Linked DNA regions of Homo sapiens. The protein of the gene in region 1 purifies or fractionates together with the protein of each later gene. This does not show direct contact. Each region holds a gene or a part of one and is shown in the gene's direction. Other genes may lie near its edges.

Region 1 (3,500 bases):
CATCCTAGCCTCAGCAGTGAAAAAACAACTGCTAGTTTAAGGACCAGAAAACGTGCCCTCATGCATGATATAATATCATATATATAAAACCCAATAAAGCAGGTCCCTTTGCTCATTTAAAGAGTGATAATGGGGTAGTGACCTCAAATTAGGATTCTGCTGTGGGTCTTGGGGTCGAGAATCCCTATAACCCTTAGATTTCCAACCTGTGTCATGAGGATAACAACATCTATCTCTTGGGTTGTTGTGCTGATGGATGAAGTCTTACAAGAAAAGAACCTAGCAAAGCATTTGGCACGTAGCAGGTGCCCAACATTATGTTCTTTTTCTTCCTTCCTTAAGCAAATCCTTTAAATCCAGCCCCAGCCACCCTGGGCTGGGGAGGTCTCCCGAGATTTGAATCCCCAGGTTTGGAAGAAAGTCTCTGGTTTTGAGAGGAAGGGGTCTGTAATGATTCTGAAAGCTCGAGGTCCTTTCAAATGCTACTAGAGAAATTGTGCTTCAAGTTTTAGCTTTGGGCAAAGAAGAGCTCCTGTTCCTGAAAGCAGGGGTATCCTCTCCTGCCAATCATCCCATCTAGGACTGGACTGTGTGCATCCCGCTGATGTTGCCATCTGCCCGACCTGCCTGTGCATGCCTGATGCTCTCATCCCTGGCTTGAGACCATGCAGAGGGTAATGGGTGCACACACATGTCCCCTCTCTACACAAACATGCACAGCCACCCAAACATGTCACAAAATGAGAAGTCTGGGACAGAGGTCAGGGTGGTCTTCACCTTGGAGAAGCTGGCATCTGACTCTCTGCAACCCAGGCCAAGTCCAGAGGAGGGCTGCATCCCCCAGCTCAGCTTGTGGGAAGACCACTCCTGTCTCACGCAAATATGAGGCAGCTTGCTTATCTAGAGGTGAGGACAGGAACAAGAAGCAAGGACAGCTGCTGCTGGTGTGGGTTCTTAAAAGCAGGCAGCATTTTGTCCTCCCACCTGTGACTGCACCCACCCTGTGCCAGCACAAGTAGAAAATGGTAGATCTCCCAGGACTTTGCAGCCAGCCCATCCCAACTGTTTCTGAGACTTCCTGGCCTCCTGAAAGCTGCTCCCACCTGGGAGCATCTCCCATGGCAGCTTGCAGTGCCCACGCAGGTGATGACATCCCAGCTAGTGTCCCCTGATTGCTTCCATGTTGGAGCTGACTGGTATTTGGCCAAGGCCCCACTCCAGGCATTAATCATTGACCTGGTAAGAAAGGTCTGGGGCAATTAACCGGACTCAAGAGAGCCTCAACGTTGCCATCTGACACCCATATTTGTTCCCACTCCCTCCCTTTATTCTTCCAAAGAACTGCAGAAACAAAATACCTTTATATTCACAAGGAAATAAAAGGTTCCTTGCTGGGAAATTCCCCTGCAACAAAGAAATAACCAAGATAAACAACTCTATTGCCTTTGGCTCAAGCTGGTGAAGGGAGTCTGGGAGCAGGAGCAGGGGCCAGGGTGGTGAGGGAGGTCTGGGAGATAACGCCCAGCTTCCTCCTGCTTACAGCGTCCTTATCTTTATGGGCACTCATTACTGCCCAAACTTACGATCATTTAACACTCTCTTTGTCAAGACAACTCCAAAGTTTAAAGTCTGTCAAAGTCTGGGAAAGTGGAGACTTCTGTCTCCTCCTCTAGGCTGTAGTTGGGGTCTTGATGACAGCTGCTGTCAGGCAGACCCCTGGGACCCTCAACTCTCCTCAGCCCTGGGCTGTGTCCACGGTGGAGACAAAGTCCACACAGGCTGCTCCGTCTGAGTGGTCTCATCTTCGATTCTTCATCTTTGTCTGCCAGGCCTTACCAGGCAGGATTACAAAGACCCTAACACCTAAGCTTTTAACCCCAATTCCATAACCAAGTTGCTGGGAAAACGTAAGCCTATCATTCAGCATCTCAAGACCTCAATGTTTTATCCATAAAATGGTTGTGATTATACCCGTCTGTCTTATTTCAAGGGAACATATAAAGCTCAAATGAAATAATGTAAATGGTAGTGCTTTCATAAGCAACAGGGTCTCTACAAATAACACAAATAAGCATAAGGTAAAAGCATGCTCTTGTATTTGGGGTGCGATACAGTAGTGGAGAGGTTAAGCACATGGACTTTGCAGTCAGACAAAGGTGGGCCCAAATCTTCCCCGACCCCCATTCTGTGTACCCCCACACATTTAACCCCATGTGCCCTTGAGGAAAGTACTTAACCTTGAAGCCTTCATTTCCTCCCATGTGAATGTGGATAAGGATACTAACCTCACAGGGCTGATATCAAGTCTGTATGAGATAGTACACATAAATTATTCAACACAGTGCCTGAGACAGAATAAGGGAGCAATCAATGGGGTTAGGACCATCATCATTACATTTACAGCCTTAATAATCATGACACCTCCTCTGTGGGTCTCAGTTTCCTCATCTGAACACACTGTGAAATATGTCAGCCCGCTTCACCTCCCAGGAATGTAGGGAGGGCAGCTGAAACAGAGAGATGGGGGCCACGTATTGGTAGGAACCAATCACCCAGCAAGCCATTCCTGAGATCTTACGGTGTGCCTGGGACTGTGTCTCATGGGCAGGGAAACAGAGCAAATGACACAATATCTCTATCCCAAAGGAGCTTGCAGCTTAGTTGAGAAGACAAAAGCTACTTCTAGCTATTAAGGATATACAAGTGTTGAAGGATGATAAGACTTTGAATTGTTATGGAAAAAGTGGAGGCACTGATTCATTCAACAGGATTTATGTCAGTTGCTGGAGATACAAAGCCAAATAGATGTCACAGAAACTCTAAGGTCAACTAGTCTTGGAAGACAAGGGGCGCTTCATCTCCTTGTGATTATTGTTTTTCAGCATTGCACAGGAGAAGTCGGCCTGAGTGGTGCGGCGCTCGGGACCCACCAGCAATGCTGCTCTTCGTGCTCACCTGCCTGCTGGCGGTCTTCCCAGGTGTGTCTGCCAGGCCCCAACTCTCCAAGCTCCACCCCTTCAGCCTGCCCGACTCCAGGGTTCACCTCCCTGGGGACACTAAAATCAGACTCATCCCCAGGGATGTCCCTCTCAAAGTTGGCACTTCCTTGAGGAAGAGTCATACAGAGAAGACACTGAAAGGCCACATCTGTGAGCATTGGAAGTCAGGGACAGGAATGGCACTTCCTAATCTCAAGGCCAGGGGTCTGTGAAAGATCTTCTTTGAGAATAACAAAGACCTTAACTTCAACCAAGCATCTCTATGACCCGCTGTGAAATCTGAGGGAAGTCACTTATCCTTTCTGGCTCTCAATATTTTTATCTGGGGGAAAAAAAAGAAAAGAAAATCATCTACAAAGTGCTTTTAGAAATATAAGGAAATAACACATGGCAAGTGCAAACATGTAACACCTTACGAAAGTGGTGTTATTGTTTGAAAAAACAATGGATGGCTGGATGCTGGCTCACAGCTGTAATGCCAGCACTTTGGGAGGCCAAGGA
Region 2 (4,278 bases), on another chromosome or scaffold:
TTATATGGTATATAATCTTTTCAGACTAGCTCTTTTCACTTAGCAATATGCATATAGGTTTACTCCATGTCTTTTCATGGCTTGAGAGTTAAGTTTTTTAAATCATAAAATCTCTGAATAACATTTCATTATATGGATGAATCACACTTTGTTTATCCATTTATCTATTGAAGGACATGTTGGTTGCTTCCAAGATTTGGCAACTTTGAACAAAGCTGCTATAAACATTTATGTGTAGGATTTTTGTGAACACAAGTTTTCAAATCTTTTGGTGTATCAAGAAGTGTAATTGCTGTATCATATAGTGAGGTTATGTTGAGCTTAATAAGAAACTTCCAAGCTATTTTCTAAAGTGACTGTACCATTTTGCACTCTCATCAGCAATAAATTCTCACCAGCATCAGTTCTTGATACTTCATATCCTCACTAGCATCTGTTGTTGTCAGTGTTTGAATTTTAGCCCTTCCACAGGGTATGTAGTAGTATCCCATTGTTGTTGTAATTCCCTAATGACATATTATGTTAAGAATTTTTTCATATGCCATTTACCATCTGTATATATTCTCTGGTGTTATCTTCCCCATCACTGCAAAATATATCTGTTTGAAGGCCTAAACCTCAATGCAACTGTATTGAAGATAGGGCCTAAAAGGAAGCAATTAAGGCTAAATTAGGTTAGAAGGGTGGAGCCCTGATCCAATAGGATTTATGTCCTTATAAAAAGAGTCACCAGAGAGCTTTCTTTCCCTCTTTATCTCTGTGTGCACAGAGGAAAGGCCATGTGAGGAAGCAGTAAGAAGGTGATCATCCACAAGCCAGGGAGAGAGGCCTCACCAGAAACTGAATTTGACAACACCTTGATCATGGACTTCTGACCTTCAGAACTATAAGAAAGTAAGTGTCTGTCGTGTAAGACACCTAGACTGTGGTTTTTTTTATGGCAGTCCAAGCAGACTAAAACATTTGGTAAGGATCTTTGGCCCACTTTTAGGTTGTGTTGTTTGTTTTCTTAATGTCGAATTTTACTATTTCCTTATACATGAATTATTTAGCAGATATGTGTTTTGCAAATATTTTTATCTAGTCTGTGGCATATCTCAATTTTTAGCCCTGAATACTTTGTTTCATAACCATCAACTTAAGTATCATTCCCACTAGTCTGTAAGCTCTTGGAAGGTAGGAAAGAAATCCTTCAGTTGAGGCAACCCCAACAGCAAGCACAGATCCTAGCACAAGTTAGATACATAAGATAAATAATTAGCAGGTTGGTTCACAGAATAAATGGATAAACAGTGACATGAAGGAAAAGGTTAATGTATTTCAAAGAGGAGTTTAATGTCAGGCAGAGGAAGCAATGTCAGCTCCAGAGGGCTACATTATGTCCACTGGAGAAAAATAGCATCACACAGTGGGAGATAGCATCACACAGACAGGAGGGGCAGCAGCCCACACATAGTTTAGAGGGGAACCTGCCTACCAAGGCTGGCAAAAAGGAGACCAGACAGGAGGCGTCTGTAGAGATATCATGAACTTCAACTTAGCTTTGGTACTTTCTTCCCTGAAGACAGAGGGCAGAACTCTGAGTTCCAGAACCATTTTCAACTGTATTGGGGACCAATCACTTGACTCTATTCTTGTCTCTCTGACAGATGACGCTACACTCTCCTCTGAATAATGGACACCATTTCTAAAACTGAATCCTGCTACTAAAATAATTCAGATGATATATTTTTCCAATTCTACAATCTTGCTTTGTTTTATTTAGTTGTTTTCTCTCTCTCTTCCCAGTTTTCCAGAGACTGGAGCTAAACTGGGCTTTCAACATCATCATGAAGTTTATCCTCCTCTGGGCTCTCTTGAATCTGACTGGTGAGTGTGTGCATATTTGTCTCTTTACCCACCAAAGAGAAATCCTGGGAAAAGCATGAAAGACGGGTAACAGCGAGAGGCATCATTCCAGAATTCAAGTGTAGGATGGTCCTCTGTCCCTCTCCACTGCCCCGTTCCCATCAAGTTTCCTCCTGTGATAGTGCCTGCCTGCCTGCCGCAGGAGGTTTGCTTGTGTGCTTTTGTGGGAGGCGTGGACATTGTCACTCAAATACCAGACCCACTCCTAAGACCTGACTCTGGACCTGTCTGCAACAGGATTGATGTTCTGCACCACAGAGGGCACAGCAGAACATTGAAGAATCAGATATCTCCTGGCACAGTTCCAGTTACTCAGGCATAAACCCAGGCTTATTCATAAATCCTCTCTTTCTCTCATACCCCACGTTTGATCTCTTAGAAAAATGTTGGCTTTGTCTTCTAAATGTATCCTAAATTCAATCACATCTCACCATCTCCACTGCTCACAATGATCTAAGCCACCACCTCTTGCCTGGATTAGCAAATTATTCTCCTAACAGACCCCTCTACCTCTATACTTCTACACTCTACAGGTTCTCCATGAGGAGACTGTCATCACTCCTTTGCACAAATCCTTGAGTGGTTCCATTTGTACTCAGGAAACAAGGCCGAGTTCTTACGATGGTCTACAAAACCCTCCATTCTTCTTTGAGCCCCTTTCCTCCTCTGCTCCCCTTCATTCACTCTGGGTCAGCAGCCATGGCCTCTGTGATGTAACTGACACAAGCCTCAGGACCCATGCTGCAGCTGTTGCCTCTGCCTGGAGTCCCTTCACCCAGATATTTGACTAGCAACTTCCCCCGTTTTCATGTTATTGTTCAACATTGCCCATGAAGTTATACTCTGATGACTGGTTTAATATTACCTGAGACTGGAGTAATGGCTCATGCCTATAATCCCAGCACTTTGGGAAGCTGAGGTGGGAGGATCACTTGAGCCCAAGAGTTTGAGACCAGCCTGGGCAACATATCAAGACTCCATCTCTATTAAAAAAATTAAAAAATTTAAAAATTAACCAGATATGGTGGCACACACCTGTAGTCCAAGCTACTCAGGAGGGTTTGCTTGAGCCCAGGAGGTTGAGGCTGCAGTGAGCCTGATCTTGCCACTGCACTCCAATCTGAGCAACAGAGTGAGATCCTGTCTCAAACAAACAACAAACAAATACTGCCTGAAACCCCTCCTTCTCCCCCAACACACAATTGGTAATACCTTTCTCTCTTTCCCTGTCCTACTTTTATTTCCATAGCACTAATCACCATTTAACATCATATATAGTTTACTTGTGTGTTTTTCCATAGCACTAATCACCATTTAACATCCTACATAGTTTATTTGTGTGTTGTGTTTATTATTACTGAATATCTTCATTAATTGTAATATATGAGAGCAGGAATATCTACTTTGTTCACTATATAGCCCAAGCCCCTAAAACAGAGCTTGACATATACTAGGTGCTCAATGTATATTTGGTAAAACAATACATTATTTTTCCCCTCCTCAGACTCTTAGCATTTGGTCTGTTCTTGTCATGATACTTATATAATTCTGTCTTGAGTTGTTGTTGGGAAAAAGAGATAAGACTTATTAAAGCATTCTAAATCAGAATGCCTTAAGACTTATTGAAGCATTCTAAAATTGGTAAAAATAGTGAAAAAAATTCGTTGATTTAGCATACAACCCACTAAATTGTGGAAGGTATTTAAGAAAGTTGAACATTTAATTTGAAAGATTTTATTGACAGTGAAAAAGCCAAACACTTTTTATTTTTCAAAAGAGATATGTTTCTACCATTTGTCTTTTCTTCGTGTTTTAGAACAAAGTAAGTCATTTTACAGATAAAGTTGCTAGAGAAAAGGATAGGGGAACTTGGAGCCTATTAAATGACTTTCCTGAAGTTTTTCTGGTGATGACTGAGAAATCTTGGAATTTCTTGTCTATGCTTCTCTTTCCAGTTGCTTTGGCCTTTAATCCAGATTACACAGTCAGCTCCACTCCCCCTTACTTGGTCTATTTGAAATCTGACTACTTGCCCTGCGCTGGAGTCCTGATCCACCCGCTTTGGGTGATCACAGCTGCACACTGCAATTTACCGTGAGTGATAAGCCTTCAAAGGCACTCCATTCTTTGGGTTCTCAGGTTGGGCACAGACTCTCACCCCTGTCTGAGACCATCTCCCAATTAAATGGGATTAGAAAAGCCTTTGGGAGACATACGAGGGTACAGAAAAAGGTCTGTGGGGAGGGATAATAGAGGCTCATAATGATGGAGAAGCCATCTCTGTTAAGTCCTCTCATAAACGTCTATATTGTTCCAGAAAGCTTCGGGTGATATTGGGGGTTACAATCCCAGCAGACTCTAATGAAAAGC
Region 3 (3,500 bases), on another chromosome or scaffold:
AACAAATATGTGGTTCTTCTTCTTAGTTATTCTAACATTTTATAAACTCGCCATGCCAACATAAGATTCCCATGGATGTATAAGTATTGAAGAAGTGACACATCAATGTAAGTGATTTTTAGTTTTGCTCCCAAGATAAGGCCGGACATTTTCACTTTATTTGCTTTTAAAAGACCACCAGTTTGTTTATATAAAACGTAGCACTAAGCTGTCCTCACTTGGTGCCATTTGTGATGTGGGAAAAGACAAAGGACACTACCAGCCTCATAGCCTGAGTCTCTGAGAAGCCAGCACTCTGGGCAGAATGTCTTCAGGAAGTCTGTAGCTGAAATCTGGTGCTCATATAGGTGTGGGCTGGCTTGGTTTCCCCAGTGCAAAGCTGTCTTCTAGAAATGACTTTAATAATCAGCATGGAAGGTTAAACCTTAATTTTATCCTTCTCCTTCTTCAAAAAGTAACGCAGAGGGTACTTACTTTTCAACCAAAATGAAAGTGTATTACTGAAAATAGTTCTTGAAAGGCTGGTCCCCTAGGTTGCCTGGGAAGGAGGCACGTTTCCCAGGCTGGGATCCCCTGGGTCATGGGGCTGCCTCACCTCCATGCTGGAGGACAGTTGTCTTCATGCAGAAGTTAATGTGTAGCAGCTACATTATTCTTAGTTGAATGAGATTTGTGCAGGTTCCTGTTTAAAGTGCCGTCTTTAATGTCAAATGCAAATGTGTGGGAAAAGACATACTTCTCTCATCGTAAAAAGAGACCCTTCAAAGGCCGAAGAGCTACGATTTTATTTGTGCATTTTCTTTCCCTCATGCCTCAGATGTAACTTTATTTGTGCATTTTCTTTCTGTCGCTATATTTACCACTTCTCCCCAAGTCAGGATTGCATAACCACACAAGGCAGGCTGGGTAATTTCCATGCTGTCAGGCCACTGGGCAAAACACACACATACACACACGCAGTGACACAGACATCAGCAGAAGTCTAATTACTTTCAGGCTTGGATTTCCCGGCCTGCAGCAGCTGCTGTACCTGCCCAGGTCCTGCTTGGGGCTTGCGTGCTTTCCTTCCTCCCCTTCTTGTCCAGCAACCCCTCCGCCACCTGCAGAGGAAACTGGCCCTGGTCGTGGAGACTTCCAGGACCCAGAGAGGAGGAGAAGCAGATTCACTTGCCCCATAAAAGCTTGAGCTCACCAGGGGAGCACCTGTGGAAAACCCTGCTTTTATCATTATATTAAGGACTCAAACCAAAGATCTAAATATGCCCTTTATCTGCTAAGAAAAATCAGAAGGCTGGGAAATTATATCTTTCTGTTATTATGCATCATAAATAATAGAAAGTAAATACTGGCAAAGCATGTTACAAGAAAACACATTGTTTTTGCTAGTTAGCTTGTTGAAATCACTTCAGTTGAAGTTCCACTAATATCCTAAATAAAGGAGCCAAAATAGAGCTTTCAAGGGAACTTCAGTTCTTTTCTGAGGAGTGAGATATTCAGAAATGCTAACTGTCGAATCCCTGATTGTAACTACTTATCAGATAGGAGTGGGGCCAGAAACTTCTTGATTTGGAATGTAAACTCCTTGTTTTGGATGTAATTGAATAACCAGGGAAAGGACTAATGCTAGAGATTGGTTTTTTTTTTTTAATCAAAATCTGGATTGGATTTCATCTTCATTTTTAATCTAGCTGAACTATAGTAACAGCTCTGCTACCTGGAAATCAGGAGAAGGCTATTGAAAGTCTTCATGTTAAGTTATCAGATTTACTTATGTTTGCTCCCCAAAACCTGAAACTTTCTAGAGTTGTTAGTCTAAAGGGAAATTTTTTGACCATGTGAAATGTGTAGACTTTGGGATTGCCCACAAATACCTTCTGTTCTGAGTTTTTAAAGAATTCCACCTGTATGTGATAGTCTCATGGGAGAAATGTAGCCGTTCGTGGCAACAGTGGCATGCAGCTTGAATACTTTAACATTCATGAGCAACCCTAGTGCTAAAATTTTTGTTTTACAATTTTATATTGATACCCATAAGAAAATTAACTAATTGCAGTTTTCTTTTTGTCCTTTTGCACCTCTGTTTGCTGCTTTCTGTCTCTTTCTGTCTCTTTCACATCAGTCACCTGGGCTTGGCACTGACTCATGTCCCTTGTCACCCCCATCCACCCATTGTGCCCCCACATCTCCCACAGAGCTCCGTAGGAGGTGTAAGGAGAATGACTGCAAACTGCCAGGTTATGAGCCGTCCAGAGCTGAGCACCTGCCTGGAGAGCCCGCCTTGGACTCTGATGGCCCAGGGAGGCCTTACCTAGGGGATCAAGATGTGGCTTTTAGCTACAGACAGCAAACTGGCAAGGGGACCACCCTGTTCTCCTTCTCCTTGCAGCTCCCTGAGTCATTCCCCTCCCTCCTAGATGATGATGGATACCTCTCTTTCCCCAACCTTTCTGAAACCAACCTCCTGCCCCAGAGCTTGCAGCATTACCTCCCGATCCGCTCACCGTCCCTTGTGCCCTGTTTCCTCTTCATCTTTTTCTTTCTGCTGTCTGCCTCCTTCTCAGTGCCATACGCTCTCACTCTCTCCTTCCCTCTGGCTCTGTGCCTCTGCTACCTGGAGCCCAAGGCGGCCTCCTTGAGCGCCTCCCTAGACAATGACCCGAGTGACAGTTCAGAGGAAGAGGTGTGTACCTCGGCATAGAACACGCTTCCCCTTCGTGTTCCGTGCTTGAGTCCGAAACAGTGTTAGCTGGCTGCTGCCATAGTGGTCCTACTTTCAGAGCCTCATTTATTGTCTGTGCCAATATGTTGAGGTTTCTGTGTGTTGGGGAGTCCAACCTGGGCCCCAGGGTTAGGCACAACACCATGTGGATGTAGCAGTCTGAGCCCAACCCGGAATCGTTCTGCTACCCACTGAGTTCTACGTGGGATGAAAGACTCAGCCAGAAGTCAATTTTATATAACCCGTCAGCTGTGTAAAAGATCAGGGCTAAGCTAAAGGTTCTGATCAGTTATGGTTTAATAAGGTAAATCACATATAAGACAGATGATGAGTAGTTTTCAACTTAAATGACAGTCAAGGAGAGGTGGAAGAGTGCATCCCCGGAGGGGATGTATCATCATCACCTGGGTAGCTTTCTAAAGTTGCAAAGGTATCTCCTCCCTGGAGATCCTGAAATGTCCCCACCACCCTCTGCTCATCATTGCCAGACAGTCATTGTTACTCACAGAGAGGTCAGTCAATCAGATCCCGCATTGTATTGTGTCAGAGCAGTTTAAAGCACCCACATGACATCAGCCATTGGTAAGGGCAGAAACAAGCCCAGAAGCAACGGCATGCAGTGCAGCAGTGTTCAGACACAATCAGAAAAGGACTAAATTGAAGTTTTCAAACAATGTAAAGGCAGGCTGAAATTTCACCATGCTAGCAATGCCAATGCAGATAATATGACAGCGATTCTTTCAACTGCAGTATGAGTCTCAAAATCCCCCCATTTTCACAG
Region 4 (3,951 bases), on another chromosome or scaffold:
TTAGGGGGTGAGGGGATAAAGAGGGGTTGGGTAATGGGTGCAAAAATATATAGAAGGAATATGATCTAGTGTTTGGTAGCACAATAGGGTAAATACAGTTAACAATAATTTATATTTCACAATAAAGGAGTGGATTTGGAATGTTCCCAACATAAATGATAAATGATAAATGTTTGAGGTGATGGATACCCCAATTACCCTGATTTGATCATTACACATTGTATGTTTGTATCAAAATATATGTACCCCATAAATATGTACAACTATTGTGTATCCATAAAAATTAGAAATAAACTATATATATAAAAACTATATGGATATATATATAAACAAACTATATATGGATATATATATATCCATATCCTTCCACACACATATCCATATCCACACACATATCCATATCCACTGCTACCACTCTGTCTCATATATATATGTATATATGTATATATATATGTATATATATGTATGTGTATATATATATATATATGAGAGAGTGTCAATAATTGGTAAGTGTAGATGAAGAGTATATGGATATTTTATGATACTATTTTTTTTCCAAATAGTTGGGAAAAAAGAAAAGGAAGGGGCGAAAGGATAATTTAATTTCCTAATTGTATTTTCTTAGGCTATTGTTAAATGAATTATAGCTAAGCAGTGAAAACAAAACATTTATTCGGGTATGGTTTTATATTTAGGAGTGAATCAAGTTACTAGTGACTCAACTGTAAGAATTATTAAATTGGTAATGCAGTTTTCGTTGCTTGTTAGAGAGACTTCTCATACTTTATGGTTTATGCTTTGGAAGCAAATAAGCTCTAGAGGAAATGGAACAGGTATGTATTAAGGAATTTAAGTTTTTGCTGTAAGTTTGGAAATACTTAACAAATTCTAACTTTTCATTATCACAAGCCTTTTAAAATTACCTGTGATGATAGGTATCTATAAAAGTAATTATATTGATTTATCCCTTTTTTCTAGGTTAAAAAAATAAGTATGTTTTATTGGTGGTAGCTAAGTGGATCTAGTTGATAAAGGTGGAGATATAAATATATTGGTGTAAAAGGACAAATATGAGATAAGACTATGTATTTATTGCCCATTTATGTAATTGCATGTGTCACTAAGGACAAAGGTCCTTAAAGACGAAAAGCAGAGTAGAAACAGTTCCTTATATTAAGACAGATGAATTTGCTACCTCTTCCCTCTTCATGAATTTTTTTTAAATGTATGGTTGTATATCCTTCCAGTTTTATAATCACATTTGAAAACTCAACCATCTTTCTGGGCACAATTTGATGGCTGAAGATATGCTTCACTCCAATAAAAAGAAAATGAAGATTTTTCAAGAGCATTCGTAGGCTTCGAATCAAAAGGACAGTACTTATTTCCTGAGGTCTGATAACCGTTGTTTTATGAGGAAATAGTACTAGGATCACAGTACCATGGATGTGGTAGGCGAAAATGAGGCCCTGCAGCAGTTCTTTGAAGGTAAGAGGCCAATTTCCAGCATGAATTTGCTGCTTCTGAGAAATGCTCACTATCCCTGTTTCACCTTTTCCGTATTCACTTAAACTTTGTTTTGAAAGAAATGCTATCATACTTAGGTAACTCTCCTAATATCAAAAGTAGGGGTTTATTTGCTACATTGGGAGCAAAATTCAATGGTATGGATAGAGATTTTAAACAAAACAGGATTTTCATCTTATAGTTTGGTTGTTAGAATCAAGGGGTCAGCATATTTATGTTGTTATTACTTGTCCCTGTCCTGTACTAGATTTTATTTTTTCCCATGCCCTATGTTTAAAAAAACTACATAGCCATGCTCAAATTCCATGTGAAGGGAAACGTGACCATCATTTTTACACGGTAAGGTATTTTGCATGAGGGAGTATGAGAAGAAGTGAGGGAAGACCTGCTCATTTACAGAATCTAGGGATCAGTCAGCAGCACATCGAGAAAAGTGCTTTAGGTATTTCTTGTGCTTTGTAAAGTGCCTGACAAATAATATATATTTAAAAGTTGAATGGAATGGGCTGAATAGTAAACAATGCTGAACACTAAAGAGTGACGGGGCGTACCAAAGAAATAGTGAGATTCTATGTCACTATTGGGAGGAATCAACACCATGGGGTAGTTTCTGTGGCTTGGGTTTTTCCAGAAATGGCAAGAAGAAACATAAGACCAAGAGAATTATCACATTATCTTGTCCTACCATCCATCCCATTGAGTGTTCTGTCTCTGACAGTGGCCAAGTTGGTATTGTCTACCTGGGTCATGCTTGGCACATGGTAGGCACACTAGTGTTGCTAGACTGTTATTGCCTGATTTTATATCATATATAATTTTCGTTTGAGCAGCAGGTGGCAAGCTTCAATCTACCATTGCATCTATTTTAGAGAAACCAGCAATTTATTGTATACATGCAAAAATCTACTCCATTTCCTTCTAGAGCTAGGGAAGACCTGAATATCGAATTTGGTCTACCTTCTGTTTTTTGAAAGAGCTTTTATTTCTATGGGATCCCTATACTGTCCTTGTTTATACTATTTTTGGAGGTTTCTATGGATATAGTTTCTACAAGTCCCCTCTACAGCTTGTTACAATTATCTGATCATTATTATAAAAGTATTTGTCTTCAGTGTTTTTCTTACATTATCTGTGAATAGTTGGAAAAGGTGGTAGACTTCACAAATTAAAATGAAGGCACTAGCTTAAGTGAGTCCCATCCCCCTGAAAATCACACAGCTAATTGTCAATTTTTTCTTACCTCTACTATTCAGCAAATATTGAGCGCCTACTCTGAGTCAGGTTCAACAACCACTTTCTTTAAATGGTAGCTTGTAGGGCTTTGGATGCCTTCTCTTACATTTTAATAATTTCCTTTCTCTTGACCCTTTTCAAATGAAGGCAGCTGAACTGAAGCTGATATTCTTGATCTGCAGTCCAGTGCTCTACCTCTGAGCTATACCCTCTCCTTGAATCTGATATTCTAATGAGAAGAACCAGTTGTTTCATGTCATGCTCCTATTGATATGTTAACTGTTTCTAATCAAACACCATCTCATATATAAAAAATTCAGGGTTTGAAAATCAAGAAAAAAATTTGACAATTTGTTACCCACCTGAAAGCTATTTTCTCCATTTCCTCAGGCTCTTCATTCTAAGAAACTAAGCCCTAAATAATATATGTTTTCCTTATAAACATTTTTATATTAAAAATTATCTTGAATTAAATGGCCTTGACTGTCAAAGCTCATGATGATCTTAGTTTTTTTTTTTAAACTTCCAAACGTGACTAAATCTTCATGGTGTCTCAGGAAAATGACAAGGGTGGTTGTTCTGGGTAGCTGATAATTCTGGTTCTAATTCAAATCCCTGTCTGCCACTGATGCAATAGGTAGGCTTGTGAGCTAAAGCAGAAGAGGCGCAATCAGGCACTCTAGAGATCGCAACATCCTCTGGAAACTCAGACGCCATGTGAGATGTTTGGTTTTTTCAGCAAAATGGTACCACTTCAAAAAAAAGGTTGTCATAAGACGGGTGCATTGTTTTATTTATAATAACTAAAAATTGGTTACAACCTAAATTTCTAATAGTGGTGGATTTATTAATTATGGTTCTAACATATAATGGAATATTTTATGGCTATTAAAAATGATGACAAGGAAAAATGTTTATGATCTTAAGCAAAAAAGTGACTTACAATGTGGAATATATAAACACAATTAGATATATATAGATAACTTTCTATAGCAAAGTTTATTAAAACTGGGTTGAAAACAGTTAATATATTTCCATTCATGCACACACAAATACATAGAAAAAACCATATGAATATACTTTAAGCATTAATAGTAACTACCTTGGAGTGATAGGATTATGAAGATTTTTATTTTCTTTATACTTTATTATCTAAGTGCTTTATAATTTGAATATATAATGTTATAATCA
Region 5 (3,500 bases), on another chromosome or scaffold:
ATTGCGTTATTTCCCATTAAATGATGGTTCCTCTGACTATCTGATTGGCATTGACTATGTTTGTTGTAGAGATTGCATACATCTAGTTTAACTCTGGCTGTCAAATGAGAGCAGTTACTCTTATCAGGATGGGTGTCAGGTTTGATGTCCCCTCCTTTTCCTGCTTCAGGTTAATTTGTCATGTTCTGTTTTAAACTGAGACATATAGCTTGACCTCCTTTATTTAGGCCATTAACTGCTCTGGGGTAGTTTTCCTGAAGGTTAAAAAGCCTAGCTTCATGATGGAGGTTAACCAACATGACCATGATGGCCAGGTGTATAAATCTGGCCTCTTAAAAATCTGTATTTGAGGCTGGGTGCAGTGGCTCACACCTGTAATCCTAACACTTTGGGAGGCCAAAGCTGGCAGATCACTTGAGCCCAGGTATTTGAGACCAGCCTGGGCAACATGGCAAGACCCCTTCTCTATAAAAAATTTAAACATTAGCTGGGCATGGTGGCATGTGCTGTAGTCCCAGATACTTAGGAGGCTGGGGTGGGAGGATGGCCTGAACCTGGGAGGCAGAGATTGCAGTGAGTTGTGATCTTGCCACTGCACTCCAGTCTTAGCAACAGAGTAAACCCTATCTCAAAACTTAAAAATCTGTGTTTGGCCCCTAGCCGTCCTCAGCTCTTGAGTAAATCTCAGCATCCTAGGCTGTTACATTATGGCCCAAATATTCAATAGAGATGCTGTATATCCTTGTTCCTCTCAAAACCCCTCCTCATCACCATCAAAAAGCTGGTTCAGTTCTCTACCTTTAGATAAAGAATCATCCCAAGACTCAACATGAGCTGCCGTGACTTGTCCAAGATGACACCTCTTTACAATGTAGAGCAGTGGACAGAACACAGGTCACCCTCCGCCGAAGGCAACTATCTACTGTCTAACATTGCCTCCTAGGCCTGCCATATATAACCATCAAAAACAGTTTAGAATAAAGTGAATTGTTACAATTTTTATTTTTCATTTTTGTGTTTACATTTACTCTCAATGACATGTTTATTCCCACCTAATATCTTGAGGCTAACCACAAAATCTGCAGCATTTCCAGACAGAAGATACTTGTGACTTCCCTGTACTATCCACTACATACTTGACCTCTTTCTCTTTCTTCCTGTCTTCCCTTTCTCTATACCTTATTGTCTTTCTTTGGAACCTCTTGTAACAAATTTTGAGCCATTTCTCCCCTCACTACTCAAATATCACTTTTATGAAGGGGCGGGGGGGAAACTTAGGTGGCAAAAATATTTTACAGAAACAGTTTTAAACATGTTTTGAAGCATACTGGTCACGTGTTAGAAGGCCAAAAGCCAGGGAATTCATTCCCTTTCATTCATTGTGCTGTCTAGGTTAAGTTTTCACAGGACTTCTTGGTACACTGAGTTTGCCTCAGATTGTCTCCTGCCAGTTACAGGGAGTGGAGAGGACTTTGATATATTGGTAATTAGAAGCATTGCTGATATGGTCTTCGGTGGGAGAACCTGTGTCTAAGGTTCCTTCTCATCTGTATTCCAACACTTTCATTTAATCCTACTTCATAAGTGCCTCCAAAGCAAGGATTTTTTTTTTGGTTTAGCATGGTTTCTTTGATATAACAATAGACCGACCAAGATTTTCCTTATGCCATCTGTTTTTTTGTAATTATGATGCAATAGAGAACTGTTTGCTTGTTTATCATTTAAATCTTGCCTTCTTCCCAAAACGATTTCAAATAGCTTGAAGGAAAATGAATAAAATATATTGAGCACCTACCCTATGCCAGACTCTATACTGAAGGGTTTCTATAGGTTATTTCATTTACTCCTTAAAACAACCACATGAGATAAGTAGTATTAGCCACATTTTTGAGGATAAGACTGAGGCTTAGGGAAATTGTGTTACAAGGCTAATAAGCGAGGTCAGGGATTCGAGGTCAGGGATTCAAACCCAGCGTGCCAAGGCCACTAACCATTATGTGGAAAGCTTAGGTAAGCGCTTGTATATAGGACAATCAAGAATAAAAGAATATGTCCATTAGAAGGATTGTACTGGGCTAATCTTTCGTTTTAAAGAACAGCAGCAGCATTGGAAAAGAGCGGTTAACAGTTTTTATTAGCCAATTTCTATTCTAGAACACTGAGAGGAGCTGTTGACAGGCCCTGGTTAGCCCCAGCAAGTAGTTGTATTAAAATTACCAAACTATAGGCCTGCATTAAGGTATAAAATAAGAATGGGGACTGGAAGGGATATAAATATCTGCTAAATATAATAATTTCAGTTCTAATCACTATTTTCTTCTGAAGATTATTTGCCAGTACATAGGCAGATCACTGTCTCTCCTTTAGGTTGATGGTATATGACTACAGACTTTGTCATTTAGGGTCCAGAAAGATCACCCTAGCTAGTAGCGTTTTAAGGTAGAGAACTAGATATTGTTTCATTGCCTGTGGTTTTCTGTTCTTGTAAGAGAATTGAGCTTGGGTCTTCACTGCCACGTGACACCTTCAGATAAGGGGCAGAGACAGCTGGCCTGAGGATTGTACAGAGGTCTTACCTTGATAGCTCCTCTCCAATCCTATGCATCCTAGGAACACTCAAGACACTAGGTTGTATCTTTGCAGATACTGTTTTAGTGTCTTCTGGAACCAAGTCTCTTACTTAATCCTGGCCTGGTTTCATATTCTCTCTATTGTATTCTCTCTATAGTTTTTGTCTTACTCTGGAACTCTTCCAAGGACAGACATTGAAGAAAGGTATTAGAATAGCAAAGGCAACAAATTGCAAGGTATACTTATGGCATAGCACATCCCATTAATTATAGAATAAAAACACAACATCTGTTTTCTGCCTCTAATATTAAATCTTGACATTTGCACAACACATTTTAGTTCATAAAGCTCTCATATCTCAGATAATCACTGAGTTAGGAGACTGGTTATCTGCAGAGGGCTTTATCCTTTACAAGGGCTCTTGGGTACGTTACTTCACGAAACCCTCAGGGAAGCTCCAGTTTCTTGGGGATCTGGGGCCGGGGCATATGTCTTTGGATACCCAGTTTGGTGCTGTGCACAGCACTGCTGTACCTCCTATTCATTTCCCATCTCTTACCCCACAAAGACTCCTTCCTTCATTCCTTCTATTGCTGATCTGTTTTCCTTCATCTTCCTAGGCTGCCAAAGTAAATGCAAAACAAGCACCAGAAATCTCAGCTTGTGATTTCTGAAGGGCATTTTTAAATGGCAAGTTTGGTGTGGCACTGTTACATGTTCTTTTTTCTTTGGAGAGCAAAGCCCTTTGAGAGAGCAGGAACTCTTCTGTCAATGCATACGTTGTAGGATCCATACTGTGGAATCTCTTGTACCTAGTGCTGCGTGAAAACAATGAGGATTCCAAGTCTACTTCACTGGACGTCGGTTCTCAAACTTTTAAGATACTAGAAGTCCTTTTATTAAGCCAAAAGACCCTATGTATTAATTCT
Region 6 (3,500 bases), on another chromosome or scaffold:
GGAAAATATACAGCAGTAGGAATCAAAATGAAAAAGCTAGAACTCATCATTAATACTGACCTGATATGTATTTGTACACTGTGAAATGTTAAAATAAATGGAATGTGTAGTTTTCAGTTCCTGGAGTAAGAATCGGCTGGGCATGGTGGCTCACACCTGTAATCTTAGCACTTTGGGAGGCTGAGGTGGGAGGATTGCTTGAGCCTAAGAGTTTGAGACCAGCCTGGACAACGTAGTGGGACCTCATCTTCACAAAAAAGTAAAAAATCAGCTGACTGTGGTGGCATATGCCTATAGTTCCAGCTACTTGGGAGGCTGAAGTGGGAGGATTGCTTAACCCCAGAGGTCGAGGTTGCAGTGAGCCGACATCATGCCACCAGATTCCAGCCTGGGTGACAGAGCAAGACCCTGTTCTCCCCCACCCCCCGAAAAATAAAAATAAAAAAAAGAATCTACTAATGTGCTTTGAGGGCAATGCTAGCTAGGGTCACTCATATCTCTGGATATCTAGCAGGGCTTTTGAAAAGGGCAAGGGCAAGATCAAATAGGAGAAAGATAGTTTCACAGAGCTGCACTGAGATTCTCCAGATGTTATGCTATTAATTGTTAGTTGGGGTTTTTTTTAGTTGCATTAATTTTGTCAGCCAGTTATTGTTGAAATGTCATCTATGTCTATACATTAGGTTAATGCAAACTATATTATAGATAATTCATAACACTTGAACCCATTGATTTATTGTAACTTCACCAAAAGGGAGACAGTAGGAAGTACACTTCCCACCTGTGAACTCTTCCCCCTCCCCCACCCCAATCCAACTTGAATATATTCAAGGCTCTGAGTCTAACTAGCAATCTATATGAAATAGAAATGTAATATGAATGTTAAAAGACACCGTGGGGTTGCATGCAGTTGAACCAAGAATGTGAGAAATAAGACAGTAAAATGACCAGATCCTTGGCCAGAAAATGGGGAAGGGGCATTACAGATTAAAAGAGTCTTAAGATACAAAAGCCAATCAAATGCAGTTTTGGACCTTATTTGGATCCTGATTCAAAGAAATCAGCTGTATAAAGATATTTATGAGATAGAGAAATTTGAATACCAAGTGGATATTAAATGCTTTTAAGGAGTTCTTGTTTTTTGTGTAGTTGTGTTACAAAAGGGTACTTTATCTCATAGAAACAGACATGTATGTTTTTAAAAGTGAAATGATACCTAATTTGGGATTTACTTTAAAAACAATAAAGGGTGGGCCTGGTAGAGAAGTGGGCAAGTAGCATAGATAAAGCCAGAGTGGCTATGTATTAATAATTGCTATATATTGGAGGCAGCTTCATGCAAGTTTTTTATACTATTCCATAATAAAGCTTTTATAGCATGTCATCTCAATCCTGCTCATTTGAGAATAATTTTAATCCACAAGTAGAAAAGTAGTTAATGTTTTGTTTCTCAGAGCCTTTCTTTCATAGAAGCAAAATCTGTGAAAATGCAAAGTGGTTTGATGATATTTTTTTCAGGGTTTGTTGAAGTCATTTTAGCTTAACTTGCCTGCTTGAAGGTGGGTTTGGTATCTTGAAGCCAAACGTGCAGGATTTAGTGGATGTATTGCTGATTCTTGTTATTTGTGGCAGTTATGTTCTCTAAAGTCACCTTGATTACTGAATTAGTGAACACTGAATAATTTCCCCTAGGGGAAATACAGGGTTAGGTTCCTGCGAGCCTTTGCTTATAACATTTTCCTCAGTGGATTAATACATAATTTTGTTTTTTGTGTATTTCTCATTTAATATCTGTGGTTGATTCATTAACAGTGAACTCACAATCCTGGCCAACAAGACTATAACACGTGCCTGAGTAAAGCTTATCCCACACACATTTTCTCCAGACAGTACTTCATGGCCTTCTTGCACATGGGAACCCCAGACAGCACCTAAGGACAATGCTTGATGGGCCATTTCACACCATGAAATGACACACACACACACACAAATGCAAAAAAAGTGACACTAAACAGACCTTGAAAAGGATGCTTGTTATAGTATGAGCATTGAAACGAGAAGGGAGAGCATCACCTTGTTCAGCCTTAGCATACTGGAGTCTCAAATTTTTCACCTCTCTGCACTTGTTCACAAAGGACCATGAAAGCGCCTTAAGTATTGATTTTGGGGTTACAAATAAATTTCAGCAAGTAGGCAGATTTGTAAATATGGACTACATGAGCAATGAGGATTGATTGTGTATGTTAGATACTAATAAGTTATTTTTCTCCCAGTTTTTGGCTCGAAGCAATTCTGAATATATATGTTAAATATTAGAAGTTGAAGAGTAGTTATATATTTTGTGAATGGATTGAAGTTGCAGAGTAATGTGAAAAGTTCAAATGTTTTATACAAATCTAAAGTTGACTTATTTGAGCATGTTATGCTTAATAATATAGTCAACATATATTATAAAACATATATAAAGCACAATATTTTGAATTCTTAAATTGGTATAGATGATCTATATCTGAGTAAACTTTAAGAAAATGTTTATGTAATGCACACAAAAGATAACTTGATTTTTGTCCGAAATGTAGACAAACATTTTTTTGTATATGTAGCATTTTTTTGGATGCGGAGACTCGAAGAGCGATGGGAGAACAAGCTGTAGCTCTTGCCAGAGCAGTAAAATATTCCTCTGCTGGGACCGTGGAGTTCCTTGTGGACTCTAAGAAGAATTTTTATTTCTTGGAAATGAATACAAGACTCCAGGTAACAACAACTGTTATTTATTCCTCTCCATGCCTCTGTACTTTACCCTTCCTTCTCCACCCTTTTTTGTTTTATAAATGTTAAAAAATTAACTCCATAAAGTGTTAAATAAAGATTTAGTTTTTATGCTTGTGCTAAGACATCTGTTAGGAATGACGGATAGTATCCCTCTAAAGTTCAATGTCTAGACCTCTGCTTTGTCACTGTTAATACTTTATGTTGGAAATACCACTTTGTTTTTTTCTTGAACCTTTCTAGATGAACTGTATTTGTCAGTGTGTATGTGCTGTTAAGAAAAATTACTCTAGATATTACAAATAGGAAGTGATACAGTGATTGCAAAATCTTTGGAAGGATGGAGGAAGGAAGGGTACCCAGAGTGAACTTCGGTGGTGACTCCCACTGCTGTACCACTCAGCCAGGCTCCCAGAGGAACCGGCACCTCTGCCACAGTGAGGACGTTGAGAATCAAGTGGCTGCCCTTGGAACTGTTGGCTTTGGGGGACATAACTTCCTTAGTTCTAACCAAATCTCAGGAAGCGACTGGCGTTGTAACCGGTGGCTTTATTTCCTTCCTTCTTCCCTTTTTTCTTTCATTTAAATTGTGAACTATACAGAAACATACATAGAACACAGGTGAATAATTGAATGTATTATTATAAAGCAAAAATCAATGTAAACATCAACTGGGCCTAGAAGTATTTACAAAACAGCCAGCTCTTTTTACACTAGCCTCATTTTCTTCT
Region 7 (3,500 bases), on another chromosome or scaffold:
ATCATATTCCACAGATTAATCTATTCTTTCAGTCTATCATCTTTGACCAAACTAACAAATAAACAAACAAAATTTAAATCTATTCAACAAATATGAGGAAAACTATGATATAACATTGCATTGTGATAAATGCATATTTTAAGTCAGTTTAAATTAGTATTTGATATTAGGAATATTGAATAATATGAGGATGTTATTTATTCCTAATTTAATGTATAGATTTGATATAATTTGACTCAAAAGAAAAGGGGGAGAAAAAAATGGGAGATTTTATTTCAAAACCTGGCAACATTTTTCTGATGCTTATCCTAGAAAAAGTATTATAAATTCACACCCTCAGGAAATCTGAATGGTATGCCATTAGTTTAAATTCAAGCAATTAAAAAAACTGTCTAATAGACAACACCCAAGAATTGAGTCTGTTACTGACAAAATCCCTTCATATTGTTTTTAATTTTTTAGTATGTGTGTACAAAACTTTCAGAAGCTGTGATCACACCCAACAATTCTATCATCAGAACAACACTTCTACTAGAGATTTCACAAAAGATTTTGTGAGATGTCTTGCTGACATCAAGGTAGCCTATTTTCCTGTTGGGCAGTTTCCTGGTTTCTTGTCCTAACAACCTTTGAATTCAAAGAAACAAGCAAATAATAACAAAATCTAAGAGAAGTTATATAGAATTTACTGATTTTCAATTTTTAGGAGATCTTTGAAATAATTTAGTCTGTGCTTCTCATTTTCAAAGATTATGAAACTTTCAAACTTAAATGCAAGTTTAAGCAATACAAATAGCTAACATTTACTGAGCTTCTACTTTAAAGTGAGAACTGCAGTGAATTTACATATAGTAGCTTAATGGTATCTTACTTTATTCAAAACGATTAAGTTAAGGACTGTTATCTCCATTATACTTAGATGAGATACACTTTTCAAGGTTATCGTTTAGAATTTGGTAACATTTTATTATATGGAGAACTTTATTACATTAACCTTTGTATGATGAAATTTGATAGAAATTTAACATTTTAAAGATTTTTTTATTTCATTACTTTTAGTTGTTAATATTATATGTGTATTTCATTATCTGTGTAGTTATATGCACATATATGTTTCTGATTTAATTTTCACAAATTGAAATTTATATTTATTTACAAAGAATGAGCATGAGTATTCCAAAATATAGGCCTTGTCCTTGAGGAACATTATTATATTATTAATGTATTTATTCTTTTGAACTAATCATTTGACTTGCTTTGCATTTTGCAAGTGTGTCAGAATTTTACGTATTGTAATTTTAAAATGATCTTCGATTATCTTGAATATTTCAGATATTATTAGTTATTGAAGTACCAAAGAAAGTATAAAAATGACTTTATATTTTTAAGGAAACTAATAGAGAAATATAAGAATTTCTCTTCTATGATTGGCAGCTAACAATCAAAGGATAAGAGGGGAACATCATATAATTATTATTTATAAGCTGCTTTAGGAAATTGTTATAGGAACTATTTCCTGATGCTTTTGAAGGCATCAGTTTTGAAATGCCAGATGATTTAAGAAGCAAGAGGATTATTTTGATGCTCCCTGAACAAAATAGTAGGTGTATTGGATGATATCTTTTTGTTTTTTTTTTTGTTTTTTTGAGATGGAGTTTTGCTCTTGTTGCCCAGGCAGGAGTGCAGTGGCATGATTTCAGTTCACTGCAACATCCACCTTCCAGGTTCAAGCAATTCTCCTGCCTCAGCCTCCCGAGTAGCTGGGATTAGACGTATCCCACCGTGCCTAGCTTATTTTTGTGTTTTTAGTAGAGACGGGGTTTCGCCATGTTGGCCAGGCTGGTCTCGAACTCCTGACCTCAGGTGATCCATCTGCCTCAGCCTCCCAAAGTGCTGGGGTTACAGGCATGAGCCATCATGTCTGGCTGGATGATATCTTTCAACTGAGTTGTGTTACTACTATGCACATCCGTTTAGCAATTTTTTGTTTCTACAGGTTTTGTTTTCTTTATTTGAATATATGAAAACATTTGATTAATAATACAAGATTTTTACTTTCAAAGCTTTTTTCTAACCTAGTTTCTTTCATTACAGAAACACCTGCTGCATTTCCAGACACCATAAAAGAAAAAGAAACACCAACTCCTGGTGAAGATATTCAGGTAGAAAGTTCAATTCCCCATACAGATTCAGGAATTGGAGAGGAGCAAGTGGCTAGCATCCTGAATGGGGCAGAATTAGAAACAAGTACAGGCCCTGATGCCATGAGTGAACTCTTATCCACTTTGTCATCCGAAGTGAAGAAATCACAAGAGAGCTTAACTGAAAATCCTAGTGAAACGTTGAAGCCTGCAACATCCATATCTAGCATTAGTCAAACCAAAGGCATCAATGTGAAGGAAATACTGAAAAGTCTTGTGGCTGCTCCAGTTGAAATAGCAGAATGTGGCCCTGAACCTATCCCATACCCAGATCCAGCATTGAAGAGAGAAACACAAGCTATTCTTCCTATGCAGTTTCATTCCTTTGACAGGTAGGTACTGAACTTATTATTCACAGGGCTTTATACATAAAAGGAAAATTAGACTTTGTTAATTTTAAAATATAAGGAAGATCTTGAAAACTTTATTAACGTAGATTCTTATTACAAAGACAATCAAAATGATGGCTCAACCTAATCTTATAATAAGACATCTTAATAATACATCTTAAAGAAGAGGTTTCAATGTGATATGATGGATAGCACATTGAATTGGAAGTAGGGAAACATGGATTATGGTTATATTCCATTATCAAAGGACTACAGTACATCGGGGTGTTATTTTTCTCTTTGGACTTAGTCGTTTCATGTACATAATGGGGAAGGGGATGGGTCACATCTGTCCAAGGTTTATCCTGGCTCTGAAATTCCATTATAATATTATAAAATACTATAATAATTGTTGGAGATTATATGACATGCTTTAAGTGATAATATTTAAATTTGAACCTTAAATGGAAGTATATGGAAAAATTTTAAAATTGTTTGTGGTCATCTTCTTTATGAGATTTCCAATACCAATGTAAAAGCTGTATTTTGAAGCATGTATTTAAAAGTAAATATTTTTGAAAGGTATTTTGGCATTTTAGGTATCGAAACTATTTATAACATGGCCCATATGTCATATATCTACATTCAAATGTTAAATCATGCAAGGAATTTTTTTAAGGAACAATTAACTTTTTATTCCAGTATACATTCAATAAAAATGATAGTTCACAGAAGCAGAATAAGATATTTTAGAACCTAATACCCTAGTCATCTAATATCTTCCACTATTTAAAAACATGTGCAAGATTAGAAGAATATTTTAGTCACTAATTACTAACAGTAGTACTTAACATTGATCACTGGGGTTAATGCCTATTCCAAATAATGTTTGCGTGTTAATGTATTAACTGAAAAATGTGATGGCTTACCTTTTAAAGTAAATCATTGTTATTGATGTTTTAAAACATCT

The links.
Region 2: the proteins of PIGR (region 1) and PRSS58 purify together in Homo sapiens (affinity purification with mass spectrometry, with the first as the bait; one study listed by BioGRID). This does not show direct contact.
Region 3: the proteins of PIGR (region 1) and EPB41L3 purify together in Homo sapiens (affinity purification with mass spectrometry, with the first as the bait; one study listed by BioGRID). This does not show direct contact.
Region 4: the proteins of PIGR (region 1) and MYRFL purify together in Homo sapiens (affinity purification with mass spectrometry, with the first as the bait; one study listed by BioGRID). This does not show direct contact.
Region 5: the proteins of PIGR (region 1) and ZNF202 purify together in Homo sapiens (affinity purification with mass spectrometry, with the first as the bait; one study listed by BioGRID). This does not show direct contact.
Region 6: the proteins of PIGR (region 1) and PCCA purify together in Homo sapiens (affinity purification with mass spectrometry, with the first as the bait; one study listed by BioGRID). This does not show direct contact.
Region 7: the proteins of PIGR (region 1) and NBEA purify together in Homo sapiens (affinity purification with mass spectrometry, with the first as the bait; one study listed by BioGRID). This does not show direct contact.

The regions. Positions count from the first base shown.
Region 1 is NC_000001.11:206,939,967-206,943,466, reverse strand, and holds part of PIGR (polymeric immunoglobulin receptor precursor), read left to right. Parts: intron 1-2,882; 5' UTR 2,883-2,935; coding exon 2,936-2,978; intron 2,979-3,500.
Region 2 is NC_000007.14:142,255,259-142,259,536, reverse strand, and holds the start of PRSS58 (serine protease 58 precursor), read left to right. Parts: upstream 1-1,478; 5' UTR 1,479-1,546; intron 1,547-1,788; 5' UTR 1,789-1,829; coding exon 1,830-1,869; intron 1,870-3,863; coding exon 3,864-4,002; intron 4,003-4,225; coding exon 4,226-4,278.
Region 3 is NC_000018.10:5,414,998-5,418,497, reverse strand, and holds part of EPB41L3 (band 4.1-like protein 3), read left to right. Parts: intron 1-2,119; coding exon 2,120-2,680; intron 2,681-3,500. UniProt on the Homo sapiens protein: Tumor suppressor that inhibits cell proliferation and promotes apoptosis. Modulates the activity of protein arginine N-methyltransferases, including PRMT3 and PRMT5.
Region 4 is NC_000012.12:69,824,076-69,828,026, forward strand, and holds the start of MYRFL (myelin regulatory factor-like protein), read left to right. Parts: upstream 1-1,151; 5' UTR 1,152-1,442; coding exon 1,443-1,488; intron 1,489-3,951.
Region 5 is NC_000011.10:123,735,161-123,738,660, reverse strand, and holds part of ZNF202 (zinc finger protein 202), read left to right. Parts: intron 1-3,500. UniProt on the Homo sapiens protein: Transcriptional repressor that binds to elements found predominantly in genes that participate in lipid metabolism.
Region 6 is NC_000013.11:100,270,593-100,274,092, forward strand, and holds part of PCCA (propionyl-CoA carboxylase alpha chain, mitochondrial isoform a precursor), read left to right. Parts: intron 1-2,603; coding exon 2,604-2,754; intron 2,755-3,500. UniProt on the Homo sapiens protein: This is one of the 2 subunits of the biotin-dependent propionyl-CoA carboxylase (PCC), a mitochondrial enzyme involved in the catabolism of odd chain fatty acids, branched-chain amino acids isoleucine, threonine, methionine, and valine and other metabolites.
Region 7 is NC_000013.11:35,193,770-35,197,269, forward strand, and holds part of NBEA (neurobeachin), read left to right. Parts: intron 1-2,094; coding exon 2,095-2,533; intron 2,534-3,500. UniProt on the Homo sapiens protein: Binds to type II regulatory subunits of protein kinase A and anchors/targets them to the membrane. May anchor the kinase to cytoskeletal and/or organelle-associated proteins.